3 linked regions of the Homo sapiens genome follow. The protein of the gene in region 1 purifies or fractionates together with the protein of each later gene. This does not show direct contact. Each region holds a gene or a part of one and is shown on either strand. Other genes may lie near its edges. The genes, in order: EVA1A, PACC1 and P2RY1.

Region 1 (4,163 bases):
CTATTGGTTTTTAAAGCTCCCCAGGTGTTTCTAATAGACACCCAGGGCTCCATAGTCTAATATACAATCAGTCCAATATACAGCATAATATACAGTCAGTGGTCTAGCAGCCAGTGCTTCCAAATTCTAATGCACATTTGAATCATCTAGGGATCTTGTTAAGCTGCAGATACTAATCCAGTGGTTCAAGTGCGGCCCGAGGGTTTTCATTTCCATAAAGCTTCCATGTGGTGTTAGTACTGCCAGTCTCTGGACCACACTTGGAGTAGCAGCTCCAGAAGGCACTCTGGGATTCTAGTCATCCACGTGGTCACTGGCTACTCTAGCCAGAGGCCTGGGAGTCACCTCTCTCCTTCATCCTCTCCTCATCTTCTCCCTTTCAAGCCCTTGGTCATCAGATCTTGTCAGTTCCATCACACTGCTTCTAGGAGCTCCTCTCCTTTCCTAACGGACTGGCACAATATTTTCCTCCCTGTTCCCCACCATCACTCACTGCCCTGGCTGTGCTCTTTGCTAGACCGCCTCCTGAAGGCTTTCTTATTCCGTCTTCCCTCTGTCCAAGCTTTTATTTTGATTCTGTAGAAGGCTCTTTCACTCCGTGACCCATCTCTTAAGAGACCACCGCAACCCGGGACCTGTTCTCTCCCTGCACTCTTCCCCTATGACGATTGTATAGGAACAGGGTGTCCCTCTAGTTGTTTCTGCGTTTCCAGCCCCCAGCTGAGCGCCCATCACTCTCAATAAAATACTTGTTGATTTTAACAAACAAAACCCCAACCCTGAAAGAGAAAGGCCAAACAGAGGCCTCAGCTGCATTTCTTCCGATAAAAATGAACATTCCTTCGAGATTATGCATCAGGCTTTAACTTCCCACTCAGAAAAAAAAAAAAAAAAAAGTTGATCAAATTTAACAAAGTAAGTGGTTATTTCCTGTCTGAGTTGAGTAGCTGAATACAGGCTCAAAGCAGGCGACGGGACAGGAATGAGAGGATGGATGCTGGCAGGGGCTTGGAGGTCTGCTTTCAAATCTGGGCTCGTCCCAGCAGGGGGAAAGCCTGGAGGACCGGGATAGGTTGGGGACTGCCGATGGGGAACCTCCCCGGTCCTGCGGACAGTCGGCAGCGCGGGGAGGCAGGCAGGAGTTGGGAGCGTGAACTAACTTGGCGCGGAGGGAGGTGCCGCACGCCGCAGCCGTTCAGGTTTCGCGTCTTGCGGGCGCCCACATGGGCCGCTGGCTTGCAGAAGGGGGCGGGGGAGAGGGAGGGCAGGTCCGGAGCCAAGCGGGTGGAGGAGGGGGGAGATCGAAGGAAATGAGACAACCTTTTCCTCCCACTGACTCGGGCTCCTGCAGCTTCTGCGGGGCTTGGCGCCGCCGTCCGTGAGCACCCAGGCCGGGACCCCACATCCCCAGGCCAGCCCTGACCCCGGCGGCCCCTCCGCCGGGATTCCTTTCCGAGGTACTGGTGCCGGCCCAAGACCCGGGCAGCGCTTTGTCGTGTCCGCCCCTCAGTGATCAGCTCCGGGTCCCCCTGCTCGGCCCCGCGCGCCCCAAGCGCAGTCCCCGGAAGTGCGCGCCGGGGCCCCAGCAAAGGTAAGAGGTGCCCGAGAGCGCTCCCTGAACTCTGGGGGCGCCCGGCATCCCCAGCGGGCTCCGGCTTCTCCGAAGCGCCCTCTTTTCGGAAACACCCAGAGCACTTCTGACCTGAAGCAGCTGCTTTGTTCCCAAGTCCCTGCCCAGGTGTTGTAGGCTGGGTCCCACAGGGAACTCTGCTTCCCAGCGCTTTCTTTTTTGCCTCCTCTTCCTCCCACTTTCCTGTTTCTTCTCTCGCCCCCCCTGCTTCTTTCTGGATAGAACAACTCTCAACTCCCTGCCTCTGCAGCCCAGCTTCGGAAAGCAGGTCGTTCCCAAATCTAGCGCTTCTCTCCTGTGCCTCTGGGAGCTGGGCTGAGCCTGACTGGCTTCTATCCCAAGCCTGCGCGGGGCGGACCTGCCAGAAATGTACGTGCTGCACCGTGGACTATTTACCTGGTTTGTTTCGGAGGCAGCCAACTCGCCGCGCGCATTTGGCGACCCCCAGGACCCCGAAAGCCGAGTGCATCAGGGAGTGAAAGGCTGTTGGCGCCCCCTAAAGTCCCAGTGGGACGCTTTGCTTTTGGAGAGGGGCGCGCAGACAGTCCACGCTGCTCTATCTGGGAGGTCTGCGTGGGGGTCCCCACCCCTACTATTGAGGGGTAAGGGGAGGTGTTGGCACGCAGTACGGAGCGCGTTGGGACATGGAGGAAATGAGGATGTCCTGGAAGGAGAGGAGTGCCAACCACATCGTGCTGGCTTGCCATGTTGTTCTTATTAACTGCCTGAGTTCTCATAACAAGCCTGTGTGTAGGGACTCTTACCCCTATTTTACAAACGGGCAAAATGAGATGGGGCCACACAGCTAGCTAGGAAAGGGCCCAGCCAGGATTTGGGTCCTAGCTGGTCTATACCACACATACACTTCAAGTCCAGCCCTACAGAAGATTCTTCTTTTTAGTCTGAGCAAGAACCGTCCCCCCAACTCCCCCGCCCCCCCCCCACCTCCTTTCTCATAGTACAAGGGACCAGGCTTTTTCCGTTTTGACCTAATATACCTTGATTATATTCAAACCCAAACTACTTATTATCTACTGTCCTCTGAGTTCAGCGGCAAGCACTGAGGTTTCACCTTTGAATCTTATTAATTCATCCCCTTCTTGTCATCCAGTCTGTCACGAAATGTGTAATACTGTTCAGAAGGCTGGCTTGAATCTCCTTTCCATAAAGGCAGTCAAGCGCAGTGGCTAAGAGCCCGGGCCCTGGAGTGAGACCACCAGCTTGAATCCTGGCTGGGGCCTTCCTGTACCTTTCTGTAGCTGGATTTCCTCATCTGTAAAGCAGGGATGCTAGGGCTTAAAGTAATGGTTTTCAACGGAATTTTGATTTTACTTCCCAAGTGACATCCAGCAATGTCTGGAGACATATTTGGCTGTCATCATGTAAGTAGAAGAGGATCTTATTCATCTGGTGGGTAGAGGCCAGGGATGCTGCCACATCCTGTATTGCACAAGACATCTCCCCCCTCCCCCACTCCGCTTCCAAGATTTAAGAATTATCTAGCCTAAAATGTTAATAGTGCTGAGGTTGAGAAGCCCAGGTTTAATGTTTCACTTCATGAAGAGTGCCATTATTTCCAGCTCTCATCCTTTTATCTGCTCTAGTTTGGCTGATTATACCAGTCTCTGTCCCAGTCTTTCCCTCCATTCCAGTGCCAGAATTCTGTTGCCAAATCCACAGCAGGTCATGCGGCTATATTGCCTTAGCACCCTTGTTGGTCCCCTATTGCTAGCAGAAGGGATGGGAATTGGGAATCTGCAGGTGTTTTACAAGCACTGAAGGTAATTCCTCTGCATGTTAAAGTTTGAAAATCACTGTCTTTACAGAATAAAATGTAACCCCCGACCTTGTACACATGGCTCTTCACAACTGGCCTCACCTTATGCCACTTCGTCAATGTTCCTGACATTCCCCCAACCCACTATTCTTTTGGTATTCTAGGTCCTGACTTTTTGGAATGCCCTTCTTCCTCCTTGGCTGGCAATCAATCTTTGAGACTAGAAGTTAAGTCTCCTTTTGGGTGAAGCATCATTCTTCAGTTCCTACAGACCATTTTGTTGCTCCCTGCCCTGCCCCAGGTTGGGGGAAAGCCTCAGCCTCAGCCTCAGCCTCCCCTCTCCCCTCCTTTTTTTTAAAAAATAAATATGTATCTCTTGCAGTATTTTGTTTATCTCTCCCCTGGTCTTACATACTTAGAATCTAGCTTAGTGCCGTCGATGCTCACAGTGATGGTTTCAGGCTTTGGCGTCAGGCTTCTTGCGTTCAAATCTCAGTTCTGCCGCTTATTAACTCTGTTAAAAGTTAATTACTTGACCTTGGTCAAGTTGAATCAGTCTCTCAAAGTCTTCTTGGTAAGAAGAAATAGCGTACCTTCTCTGCAGACTAGTATGACTAACTAATGGAATAATAATCATTCATCTTAATACTGAGTGCCTACCTAATTCCAGGACATGGTTCAAGTTTAGCATTTTATACATTTTTACTCATTTAAAACCTATAATGTCCTTTACAGTTACTACTGGTATTGCCCTTT
Region 2 (3,729 bases), on another chromosome or scaffold:
TTCCTTCCAAACCCCCAGCTTGGAATCAGCACCGTTAGAGAGCAGGGTAGTCATTACTGGACTGCCTGTTGGCTGGGCCAGACACACCCTATACCCTCCCCAGGTATGCAGAGCCGCTGGGGATGGTTGCCTCTGGGTAAAAGACCCTGGAACCATTCTCTACAGAAGCGAAGGGAAGATGATTCTTTGTGTAGGCATAGGAAACAGAGCAGACTTCTACAATGGAAAAGGAGAGAGAACTAAAGGAAAGGACTCTTCCCAGAGTAAAACACACTGGAAAACTCAGTGTGCTTCCACAGAGCATACTTAGCTTTCCCATGCAAGGGAGAGGCCTATTAGAGAAACAGAAATTTACTACTTTGGAAGAAACCAAAACCCAGACCTATACTAGTCAACCTAATCCTTCATTCATAAATAAGAATGGAGAATTAATGGTCACCAGACATTTGCATGAAACCAATGACAGAAAAGGACCAAGATGAACAAATAGAATGGACTCTAGAATAGGGAAGTAGAAGCTAATTAAAACAAAAAGGAAAGCAACTTTTAAACAATTCCAATGTGGAGTTATATGTATAATAGAAGCTCTTTGTCTGGATTCCCAGCTCCCTTCATCTCTCTGTAAAACACGCTAATGAAAACTCGTGGCTGCTTCCGTCCCACTAGGTGCCTATTCTCTGGATGCCCTCCTCTCCTCCCCCAGTTGAAGTGTATGCTTAGGAGGAGTCAGTGAGGGTCATTTCCAAACCTGTGTAGGCCAGTTGCACTTGTTACAATAGTTACATAATTCGACTAAAGAGTGTAAAAACCCTTGAAATAAGGGCACAAAGAGAGAGTTGTTTTTATGGAAATGAAGTTGAATGCAGCTACTGCCCCCAAGTCTGAGTGTTGGTTCATCTCCTCCATCAATTTCTTGAAGTCCACAAGCTATAAACTAACAGAGAAGTTATCTCCTCCCTATCCACCAAGTTTCCTACCCAAACCAGCATATAGCAGTGGAGGAAGAATATGATGAGAGCAGTAGAGCTCCCATTTGGAAAAGGAAGAAGGGGAAGGGCCCGCAGCTCTGCTCTGCAGCAGTGGTGGAACCCTGCAGGGTGGGACCGGTGAGACGCCTTCTTGGCATGAAGTAAGCTCCTTGGTTTGAACCTGTTGCTGCCCTCAGAAAGAGACTCCTGTGTGCTCTGGCCTCGTCCCCTGGGAGCTTCTGCCTTGGTGGTAATGCTCTGTGGCCATATCTGAAGTGGACATTAGAAAATACGCCCTCCCTGGTGGCTGCACAGCTTGTGCCACTCACTTCCTGCTTGTGTGAGCAGCTTTAGGGCTAAACAATTGCAAACTTGGAGGGCGGCTTCTTACCTGCCTCCTGCCACTGCCTATGTTTGCAGTGAGATTTCAGAAATGTGTAGGCTTCTGGCTGTTCGCATCTAATCAAGTTCATGTGAAAGTGACCCCAGTCGAGGGTCTCATCCTGTTGTATTTGTAAAATCTTCGGAATTTTGCTGATTTTCTGGTGCTTTCTTTCATGCTCTCAATTTAATGGTAGTTATTTTTTACCAAATGCTCTGCTCTGGCACAATAAGGTTTGCCACCTTTCCAGCCTGCGGGATCCTTATCTATTTCCTTACTGCCCGCCATTTTCCCACTGCCCAAATGTTTGGCTGTTCCCTCATTTTGATTTTTTTTGCAACCATAAAACACTCCAGCCGGGCGTGGTGGCTCATGCCTGTAATCCAGCACTTTGGGAGGCCGAGGCAGGTGGATCACGAGGTCAGGAGATCGAGACCATCCTGGCTAACATGGTGAAACCCCGTCTCTACTAAAAATAAAAATAAAAAAATCAGGCGTGTGTAGTGGCACGTGCCTGTAGTCCCAGCTACTTGGGAGGGCAAGACAGGAGAATCGCCTGAACCCGGGAGGCGGAGCTTGCAGTGAGCCGAGATCACGCCAGTGCACTCCAGCTTGGGCAACAGAGCGAGACACCGTCTCAAAAAAAAAAAACAAGAACACTCCAGTGTCAGCTAACAAATTGTGTATTAGTCAGAGTATAGGCTAAGCTACCAAATAAAAACAAAACCTGCAAATACAATGGCTGAGATGAGGGAGAAGCCTCCTTCTCTCTCTGAGAACAGTCCTGGCATGCAGGCCGTGTGGCGTAGTGGGCAGTACTGCCTCATAGGATAGTCCAGCCATGACTTTTGTCTTGTCACTGTGCTGTCCCCTGGGCATTGTTCTGGTCCATGTGGGCAGTGTGTGTGTGTGTGTGTGTGTGTGTCACTGTGCTGTCCCCTGGGCATTGTTCTGGTCCATGTGGGCTGTGTGTGTGTGTGTGTGTGTGTGTGTGTGTGTGCAGTGTGTGTGTGTGTGTCTGTGCACATGCCCAGGCCTGGGAAGGTGGAGGGCAAGCAGTTCCCTTTTCAGGAAATGGGGTGGAGTTGAATGAGTCCCCTTTTCTTTCGCACATTAGGAACTTTATCACGTGGCTACATTTGAGGGCAGAGATGAGGCTCCAGCAGGGGGAGTGGATTCTGCTGAAATCTGGGTTGGGAAAGCCATTCTAGTACTAAAGGAAGAAATGGATAATAGAAACCAGGGACAGTGCTTTCTGTTGCACACTTAAAACAAAATGGTACAGAAAGGTTGAAAAATAAATAGATGGACAAAGCTGTCTTGAGAAGATGCAACGAAAACCAGAAGTGACAATATTAATAGTGTGGAATTCCACGTGCAAAAGTTTGCAAGAAGGATGTTTAATATTGATAAGAGGTTCAACTCCATACTCTCCACTAAGACGACTGAACAGTTCCAAAACTTTATGTACAAAACAGCATGACATTTATATATTTTAAGCAAAACCCGTTAGAAGTAAAAAATACCATCACTTTAGAGCACGATTTAAACACCCCTCTCAGAAATTCACAGATCAAATAGACAAAAACTAGAAAGGATAAGAATTGAATAGTGCAGTTAATAAATTTAGAGTATGTATGTGTGTGTATACATGTGGGGGCACAAAACTTTGTAACTGACAGTGTACTCACTCTTTTTCAAATCTCTGTAGAGCATTTATTTATAAAAGTTGATGTAAAAGACATTTTTTTCTAAAATTAATCTATAAATTCAGTTTCTATCACAGTTAAAAGTCCCAGTGAATTTTTTTGTGGAACTAAGCAAGCTAGTCTTAAAGCATACTTAGAACACGTTCAAAAATAACCAAGACAAGTTTGGGGATGGGGAAGAGTAGTAGGGAGAGCACCTTCCCAGATCTCAGAACAGTGGAAAAACCACAGGAATCAAAGTGGCACAGTACTGGACAGAGACAGACAAATGTGTGGGCTCTGCTAGGGCCAGAAGCAGACATAGATATTGGTTCTGCATGGAATTTAGTATAGGATAAAGGAGGGAGGGGAAGAGGCTTCAAAACCTGTCTCTATGCATTGTTTGGGAAGTAGGAGTTAGAGCCCTATTTCACACTATATACAGAGCTTAAAGCCAGGTATATAAAGTATCTAAATGTAAAAAAGATTAAAAAGTGCTATAAAGAAATAGAGGAGAATATTGATATAATTTTGGCTTTCCTCAGCAAGCAAAACCCAAAGCCGTAAAGAAAAGGATTTAAGGTTTTACTACGTTAAATTTAAAGTTTCCATAGGACAAATGACATTGGAAACAAAGTTAAAAGAAAAATGACAGACTGGAAGAAAAGATTGGCACACATAACAGATGAAA
Region 3 (3,035 bases), on another chromosome or scaffold:
CATTACTTTATTGACCTTGTTAAACAAGATCAATATCATTAAACTGACCAAGATGGAAATTACAGGACTTGTACCAGACTTGAACTTGTAGCCTAATGATACACATTTTTACAATATTTCTTCACCATTTAGTTTTCTTTCTTTTAGGTCTCAGGATGCTCAGCTTAATTTAGAGTATGTGTTAAGTACATTGTTTCAGCGTCCAGAGAATTTTGTGAGTGTGGATCCAGTGAGGAGGTGAACAGTAACTAGAAATGCTTGTTTACTACTTGGCATGTTTTTTCCAAAGTGTTTCTTCTTTAGCTTCATACATCACATATGGACACTGATGACATGTGAATGCATGCCACATAGTAACAAGAATGATCTTGCCAACTCCTTCCAAGCCAAAAGAAGCCTCTGGGAAGGTGTGCCAATGGTGAAAACGTACAGAGGGTCAGGGTGAAGCAGTGATCTCTATTGGCTGAAAAACTGATCAGGTCATATGATGATTGAAGTATGTTTATTGTAAGGGCAGAAATGTGTTGGCATTTGGATAAAAAACTGCTAACATTATAGAACTTATTACCTAACAAAATTTCACACCACAAAAAATATTTTAATGGCAAATTCAAGGTGTTTTATTGCTTACAAATCAGCATCTTTGACTCTTTGAACATCAATTTGTGTTTACATTGAAATGACAAAAAGACAAACTAAGAAGAAATACAGCATGCAAGTTGGAATTCAGAGTTAAAACCATGATGTTGCCGCTCAGCCAGCTATGTGACTGTTGACCCTTTCAAGAACACACATGGATTTAAAAGTTGGATGACATCCATTGTTGGGGCCTTGGGGGATATGGTAAAGCATGAAAACTAAACAGCCAGGAGCCTGTGAAATCTGCTACTGTATTTTCCAGGACTTCATTCCACTCCTTGGCTAAAAAAATCTTGGAAGTTTCACAGATTATGATGTGGACCTGTCACCTGTAAATTGTCTCAATCTACTCAGACAAGACACTAAACTGTCTTTGGATACTATAGATGTCAGTGCTTATAGCAGCTGGAATTTGGCTAGTGACAATGTTTAAAGATGTAATACTAGTTAGTATCTATTGAAGCTTAAACTTTGCTGGTCAGGTTGTAGCTATTGTAAAAGTATTTATTGAAGAAGCTCACAGTCCTTCAGTTGTACAGACTGAAAAACTTTCATGAAAGATCCAACATACTAATGTAAATTATATTTATTACAATGTATGATATTAATGTGTCAAACTGGTGTATTTTACAAAATATATAATGCATACATAAATAAGAGTTGTATATTACAGTGCTTTTCAAATATCAGTGTCTTGGAATATTTAAGTCTTCACATTTTTTGGTCTAAAATATGAAAATGTTTCATGATACAAGTGATTAATTTTCCCTAGTAGTGCTTTTGCATGTTTGCCTTTTTATTTAAGTTTTTTTCTATATAGACACAATTTGGTGTCAGACTATCATAAGATCGATAGTGAATATAAAATATCTTAGCCAAATGGGGTCTGTATTGTCTACATTTTATATATTAAATAAAAGTTTTTGTTGTCTTTTCAGGAGGTTTAGAGTATTGTCACTAAATATGATCAAAGCTTCCCTTTCCAAATGCAAAAGTCTTGTCCTACATTTAAAGTTGATCTGTCATGTTTTAGCAGTCAAGTGGGATGGGCATTATATAAACAACGTTACAATGTAAGGAAAATCTTTAAGGAGATGGGGAGAGAAAAAGGCAGCTGGTATAATCGGTTACTGCTGCTTAGTTCTACTTAATTTTTTGTGTTGCTTCTTCTTAAGGTGAGATAGCATAATCTTAACTGTTTTGAGATGGAATTTTAAAGTAACACACTACCAGCGAGTTCAACACTGCTATTGATTTTAATCTGTTTTTTTTTGTTTAGTTGATAACTTAAATTCCAAGTTTCATAGTGATAATTGTATATTATTTGGCTGCTGAATTCTGTTAGAGTTTTTTATTCTGTTGTACATTGTATTATACACATAATCACAAATTAATATGAAGGTGAATATATGTTACATATCAAAATTTGTGAATTTGAATTATAGTATGTTTTAGTGCTATTGCAAAAAATGTTTATTTTTATATTATCTGTGATTTTAATATAGATGATTGAACTAGATTTCTTTTTGAGTGATAGTGCCATTGAATGAGCAGTATGGAAACAGTGTTACTTGATATTTTGAGCTTTCTCAGGTTTATCTAAATCAGTGGTAGCTTAACAAAACCCAGACTAATTGTGTGTAATTGTATTTTTAATAAAAGGAAAGTACATTTCCTATAATAGCATAGTACTGTTTGCATGTAAGAGTATGCAAAACCTTGTGTGTGTGTGTGTGTGTGTGTGTGTGTGTGTGTCTTAGTGTGTGTAAGGCATGGCAGCCAACTTTGTATCTGCTATTTTTAGTACGAGCAGAGCTTCATAATTGTGGTCACTAGAACTGTACTTACCATGGACAGTTAAAACTGAAAAAGACTCAATAAAACTATGAAACATGGTTTGATGGCTTCTATGTTATTACAGTGTTAATACTCACAAGTTTTGCCAAACTTTAACAAATAATGTACAGACTGAGAAGTACTGTAAAACACATTGAACTAATTCAGTTGTTTTTTAAGGTGAAGACTGGGCTCTAAAAACTACGGTGTTAAAGGTAGAATCCTGGTGCAAGATAGGTAAAATTATCAATATTTGATATTCAATTGCCAATAGGAATGTGAGCTAATTTTTTATTGTAAAATACTTCATGCTACCTTAATGTGTGCTTCTCATACTGGTGTTCTGTGTTTAAAATGTTGGCTGTAATTTTTTCTCATCTAATTTTTAATCAGGGTAACCACGCTAATAATTCTTTGTGGATTCTATTTATTAGCATACATCACCTGCTTTTTCCAGGTTTGTTAAAAAATGTATTGTGCCACAGTGAAAATGGTGTACAATGAAATGGGAGCATGCTTAAAGCATTACCTTTTTTTTTACCTCAGTTGAGAAGGTAAGT

Evidence for each region.
Region 2: the proteins of EVA1A (region 1) and PACC1 purify together in Homo sapiens (co-immunoprecipitation; one large-scale study listed by IntAct). This does not show direct contact.
Region 3: the proteins of EVA1A (region 1) and P2RY1 purify together in Homo sapiens (co-immunoprecipitation; one large-scale study listed by IntAct). This does not show direct contact.

The regions. Positions count from the first base shown.
Region 1 is NC_000002.12:75,558,108-75,562,270, reverse strand, and holds the start of EVA1A (protein eva-1 homolog A), read left to right. Parts: upstream 1-1,331; 5' UTR 1,332-1,591; intron 1,592-4,163. UniProt on the Homo sapiens protein: Acts as a regulator of programmed cell death, mediating both autophagy and apoptosis.
Region 2 is NC_000001.11:212,380,317-212,384,045, reverse strand, and holds part of PACC1 (proton-activated chloride channel), read left to right. Parts: intron 1-3,729. UniProt on the Homo sapiens protein: Chloride channel gated by pH that facilitates the entry of chloride ions into cells upon exposure to extracellular acidic pH. Involved in acidosis-induced cell death by mediating chloride influx and subsequent cell swelling.
Region 3 is NC_000003.12:152,838,905-152,841,939, forward strand, and holds the end of P2RY1 (P2Y purinoceptor 1), read left to right. Parts: 3' UTR 1-2,535; downstream 2,536-3,035. UniProt on the Homo sapiens protein: Receptor for extracellular adenine nucleotides such as ADP. In platelets, binding to ADP leads to mobilization of intracellular calcium ions via activation of phospholipase C, a change in platelet shape, and ultimately platelet aggregation.